Regions from separate parts of the Homo sapiens genome. Here region 2 is linked to region 1. The links come from fine-mapping of genetic effects on gene expression. A gene starts in region 1. The other region holds a variant in brackets. All regions are shown on one strand. Distances are from middle to middle. Region 1 holds the start of RYR3 (ryanodine receptor 3). Region 2 overlaps RYR3 (ryanodine receptor 3).

Evidence for each region.
Region 2: its variant is fine-mapped to the expression of RYR3 in nasal epithelium (TOPMed, PIP above 0.99).

Annotation. Positions count from the first base shown.
Region 1 is chr15:33,309,586-33,312,490 of GRCh38, reverse strand. It overlaps RYR3 (ryanodine receptor 3), which reads right to left and starts at 1,524. Exons shown (of 104, transcript NM_001036.6): 1 at 1,395-1,524. The coding sequence starts at 1,445. RYR3-DT (RYR3 divergent transcript) reads left to right here and starts at 1,832. Exons shown (of 3, transcript NR_120327.1): 1 at 1,832-1,913. RefSeq lists enhancers at 282-791, 792-1,303.
Region 2 is chr15:33,803,108-33,806,012 of GRCh38, reverse strand. All of the region lies in intron 69 of RYR3 (ryanodine receptor 3), which reads right to left. Among named protein-coding and RNA genes, the nearest start is that of CHRM5, 160 kb to the left of the region's middle. The variant T/A (reference allele first, on the strand shown) is at 1,679.

The sequences.
Region 1 (2,905 bases):
TGTGAGAGATGAGAATGGAGTCTGGGTCTGCAGGTCAGACGAAGGATGAAGAGATGAATACTCTAGCCTCTCAGTAGTACCAGCAGGGCGATAGGTACTTCCATACCCCCCCCAAATAAGACCCAAGTCCCAGCTTTGACAAAAGAACCATGTTTGGAAGAGAAACTGAAGTAAATTGGAAGGAAGCGCTTCAACAGGAGGAGAGTGGTTCAAAAGATGGACAAGAGGTAAGTTGTGATCTTCGAAGACCAGGTCATGGAGAAGGGGGCACCCTTAAAGGGAAGTGAGAGAGGGAAAGAAAGAATTTCATTCTAATTCCTGAGAGCAAGGCAGCGCATATAAAATTACCTAAGATTTACAGAGCGATTTGCCGTTTACAAAACATTATGACATTCACGATAACGTTTAATCCTTATCACCCTGAAACGCTGGTTACATTTTATTTTACACATGAGGAAACTGAGGCTGAGTAGGGCGGATTATGCGACTTGCTCAAGGTCACTTGGCTGAAGTCAGCGCTAGGATGCATCCCCAATGCCCCCACCCCTCCGGGTGGCCGTCCACCCTGAAAGTCTTTGTATTATCTCCTACAGGGCAAGGCTGGTGTGGCTGCAACAGACTTCGCCCCCTCACCCCCAAATCTGGGACGGAGCAGCGCCCTCAGGTGTCAAGGAGGGGACCTGAGTGACGCGGAGCCACTGACTGGGGTTTCCCTGTCCTGCGGGGCTCGCGGGAGCCAGGAGCAGAAGCCACAGCTCTCGAACACACGACAGGCAGTCAGTCAAGTCAGGCTCCAGCAGCAGTTGCCGGCGTGGGGCTTAACACGAGAGGGGCAGCGCTGGGTGAATTCCCCTCCGAGCGATCCCAGGGCTAGGACCAAGCGCCTGCGCCCGCTTCTCCGACCCGGCTCCCCACACTCCCCCCTGCCCCGCTGGCTCCTTCCCGGAGGTTCCCCTGTGCGTGGGGGCGCCCTGGAAGAGGAATGGGGCTGGGGTGGAGTATGGAGGTGTCAGAGGGCCGACCCCGGGGCGAGGGCTTCCAACGCCGATCTTATGGGTCAGGACAACCGCGAACAAACCCCGGCTGAAGTTTGGGCATCAAGGGTTTCAGACCAAGTAGCAAGTTGCCTGGAGAGCGAGCGGTCCTAGGTGGAGGGCCTGGGGCAGGGGTGGCGGTAGGGGAACAAGGGAGAGGCAGGAGATGGTGCCCCTTCCCACGCAGCCCCTCGCGGCCCCGCGGGTAGGTGGCCGGTCCGCCTCTGCAGCCCGCGGGTGCGGAGAAAGCGCCCGGCACCGGGCACCCGGCACCGCGGCGCAGCGCAGCCAGCCCCTCCTCGCCGCGCTCCGCGCTCCTCCCCACCTGCCCACGGCCTCGCCCCCGCCGCGGAGACTCACAGTCCTCAGAAACTGGATCTCGTCCTCGCCTCCTTCTCCCCCTTCGGCCATGGCTCCCGAGGCGTCGGCGGTGCCCCAGCCTCCGGCGCCTCTGCTTCCCCCGGCAGCCGCTCGGCGTGCGCTGACTGCTGCTGCGCTCTTTCTCCTCCTCCTTTTCGTCCTCGTCCTCCACCTCCTCCTCCAGCTCCTGGCTCAGCCTCAGCCTCAGCAGCGCCAAGCTAATCCCCGACCATATAGGGAGCTGGGCTAACACTCCACTGCACTGCAGAGCGCCAACGCCAACCAAGCAGTCCGCCCACCCCTCTCGCCTCTCGCCCCAGCCAAGTGCGCTGCGGCCGCCCGCTCCGTGGAGAGCGCAACGCTGGGCGCGTCGAGCTGGCGGGGGCGGTGCGGGGGCCCTGGGCTGGCGCGGTGGAGCCTCCCCCGCACCGCTGGGTACCGCACCGCACACTCAGCGGAGGCGCGCGCCCCGCGGCGACCGGAGGATGTCCCCTAAACTGCTCCAATTCACAAACAAAGGCCAGTTGCTTAGCTCCAGCGCGCCCAGACTGGGTACCAACCCTCTCGCTTTGCTCGCTTTGCCCGCTTTGCCCACTTTGCCTGTGTGTGTGTGTGTGTGTGTGTGTGTGTGTGTGTGTGTGTGACAGAGATAGAGAGAGAGAGAGAGGAAAGAGAGAGACAGAGACAGAGAGAGAGAGAGAGGAAAGAGAGAGACAGAGACAGAGAGACAGAGAGAGGAAAGAGAGAGAGACAGAGACAGAGAGAGAGAGAGAGAGAGAGAGAGAGATCTGGACTCGAATACCTTGCTAGGACCCGCGTGCATTGTTGGGCAAGGAGAAGACGGTGCAGTGAGGAGCGAGGGTGATTGTCCACTTACAACAAAGTTTGCAACTCCCTGGATAGTCCTTTCTACACCTTAAGAGAACCCCTTCCCCTCTTCAAAATTGGTAAGTACACTTTACCAAACCCCTGGATTGTCCAGGGTTGCTGTGACTTCTGTACCCCAGGGAGCTTCTGGGGGATCCTGTGCCACCCTCAATTTGGAAGTCAGGTGGCATCACAACCCTTCCTCTCTGCCCACCCCTAACCTTATTCTGCATTTAGAGTTCCAGCCCTGTGGACTCTAAAGGGAGTAGAGAGTAGTTACAGGAGGCTCCCTTCCAGGTCCTGGAAGGCTCCTACATCCCACCCAGCCTTAGGTCCTTTTCCATGGTTGGGGATTGCCAGATTGGTCCTTGCCTTGACTGACGGTGCAGGGTGCCCCCTTCTGTTTGATGGCCGAGAAGCTCCAAGGCAAGAGACTGTTCAAGGCAAAAGGCACCAGAGATGTAGATTTAGGAGGAAGTGCAACTGGGAAGGTGGTAATTCTGGGCTGATGATGGTGGAAGACACTGGAAACCCCAAGCCATTTCACAGCTTCATATACCGCCTCCTTGTGGACGACATCTATCTCTTGATGCTACCTTAAGATCTCTTTCCTGAGCTTCCGTCCCATATGTTCTGATGAACAT
Region 2 (2,905 bases), 490 kb before region 1:
AGTGAGAGAAGGAGGGCAGGAGGGAAGGAAGAAATGGTGGACAGAGGCAGAGGTGGAGAGAAGGGAGGGGAAGGGAGGAGAAAAGGGGAGGGTGAAAGGGGAGGGGGAGAGGAGAAGAAGAGGATGAGTGTGCGTTCCCGTGTGCACATTTATGAGAGAGAGAGACAGAGTATGCACACATGCCTGTGAGTAAACAGCAGAAGTGCAAGAACAAAGGGAATAAAAACAAAAGAGAAGGCCGGGTGTGGTGGCTCAAGCCTGTAATCCCAGCACTTTGGGAGGCCGAGGCGGGCGGATCATGACGTCAGGAGATCGAGACCATCCTGGCTAACACAGTGAAACCCTGTCTCTACTAAAAATACAAAAAATTAGCCGGGCGTGGTGGCGGGCACCTGTAGTCCCAGCTACTTGGGAGGCTGAGGCAGGAGAATGGTGTGAACCAGGGAGGCGGAGCTTGCAGTGAGCCGAGATCGCACCACTGTACTCCAGCCTGGGCGACAGAGCAGGACTCCGTCTCAAAGAAGAAGAAAAAAAAAAAAAAAAGAGAGAGAAAAGTGGTAGGGGAGGGAATGAAAGAGGGAGAATGAGCAAGAAAATTCACTCACACGTGTAAGTGTGAATGCCCTTGAAAAACTCAAAGATAGCTTCAAAAATATTTCCTGTCCTTTTTCGATCCACTGAAATCACACTTCATGGGGTGGAGTGGCTTTGAACAATGAGGCACTCTAATATTTCCTGCATCACGACACTTTTTTGATTTTATTGTTTATAACCTTGGTCAAGGAACTGGCATTTCTTGGGCTGAACACATTCTAACTTACCATTCCCTTCTGAGGAAGCTGCTGTCATTTTTCCAGAAACAAAAAAAGTTTCAAAACAAAAAACACTTGCTCAGCTTAGTTACATTTAGCTTAACATACATTTGCAAACTGGTGTTATATACACAAAATATACAATGAGCTCTCACAAGCAAAATCTGCTTTGACTGCCCCAGAAAAATAGCGTTATCTTTGAACTGACCTTCAACTAATCAAGTAGTAACAGCGTGGCTCACTGTATATTTTCTCCACTTCCTTTCCATTCGCAACGGCATATGTGGTGTGTGTGGCATAGGGCATTCATATACACATACCTCCACAAAGCCTGCCATATGCACTGAGGCTAACTTCATTTTTACAACACCAGAATTCAGTTAAGAGTGGAGATAAAAGCAAGTACAGGTCACTGTTCAGATCAGGTAGTAGAGAGAACATCTAATTGCAGGGAGGCAAAGGCAATAGGGAGTCAACTGATAAGGAAGAATACTCCTGCCCTAACCCCTCAGTATGTAGTTCCACATCCAAAAAATACCAGAAATGGCTAGGAGATATTTCTTATCGGAGGCATGGTATCTTTTTGTCTGAAATAATGCACTGTATTTCTCAAATATTACTCTATCCTAGAGATACTGTTGAAACTGACCTTAAACCAGAACATCTTAGTAGAGCTGGGAGAAGTCAGGAAGTAAGCTCAATCCCATTCTGCAGATTGGTAAATGGGACCCAGAGGAGTTAAGTGAATGATGCAAGGTGTAGCTTTAGCCAACAGCTGGGCCAGGGGCAAGACTTAGCTTCCTTTCGCCTTCTGGTCTATTTACCACTACACAGTGTCTTAACTCAGGCAACAGAACAATATGAAC[T/A]CTTGTTACCCTGAGGACCATGGCAACTATTATTCAACATCTAGGGAGTGTCCTCTCATCCATTCGTTAAGTTGTAATTTTGACCCTATCCCATGTGGCTCAGAAATACTTGGCATATGACAACAACAGAAATGAAACAAAAGACTTTGCTTCTACAGACTAACCGGACCAGCAAGGAAGAAGACCACTTTCTGAAAATGACCATCCTTTGTCAAGAAACAAACACCCGCTTTTCCTCATTCAGTGATGTGAATGAACAAAATGTCAGGTTAGTTTGTTAGTAGGTGGGTTTTGAAATGCCATTTTCTGCTACCTCATCTTTGTCCAAATGTAAACCCAAGGACCTTGAGCATTCATTCATTACCAGAGGCTTGAGATGTCTTTGCCATTTCTGCTCATCCAGGATCCAAGTCCTGGTATCAGATTCATTTCCATTGCTTTGTGATTGTTCCCTGACAATCCCAATGGATGCTAGCTGGTTCAGTCCTAAGCCATTGAATCTACCCCAATTTGAAGATAAGGCCGGGAGCTGTGGCTCACGCCTGTAATCCCTGCACTCTGGGAGGATGAGGTGGGTGGATCACTTGAGGTCAGGAGTTCGAGACCAGCCTGGCCAACATGGCGAAACTCCATCTCTACTAAAAATACAAAAATTAGCCAGGTGTGGTGGCGTGCGCCTGTAGCTCCAGCTTTTGGGAGGCTGAGGCAGAAGAATTGCTTGAATCTGGGAGGCAGAGCTCACAGAGAGCCGAGATCATGCCACTGCACTCCAGCTGGGCAACAGAGTGAGACTCCATCTCAAAAAATTAAAAAAAAAAGATAGTATGGAATCTGTCTGGGATTTATTGACTTTCTGCAGGTAGATGAGTCAAAGAAGAGGCTGTGATACCTGTAAGAAGACCTGCAGAGGCAACTTAAGATAAGCTAGCTGTCCCCGAAAGGTGGATTTGAAAAAACTCAACCTCGTCTACATCATATGACAGTAGATGTGTTTACCAAAAGACAAATGCAAAATGAATTCTGAAAAATCAAATAAAACTAAAGCACAAAGGATACCTTTGCAGCAAAGATTCCTCATGAATGTGATTGCTCTACTTTGTATGTACGTAATTTTGTTTGTCAAACTTTATCAAGCAATGCATACTAAAAGTGTATACTTAGAGTATACTATAAACTCTAACAGTCAATTTCTATATGTTGGAAGAAATGTGTCAACATAAATAAAAG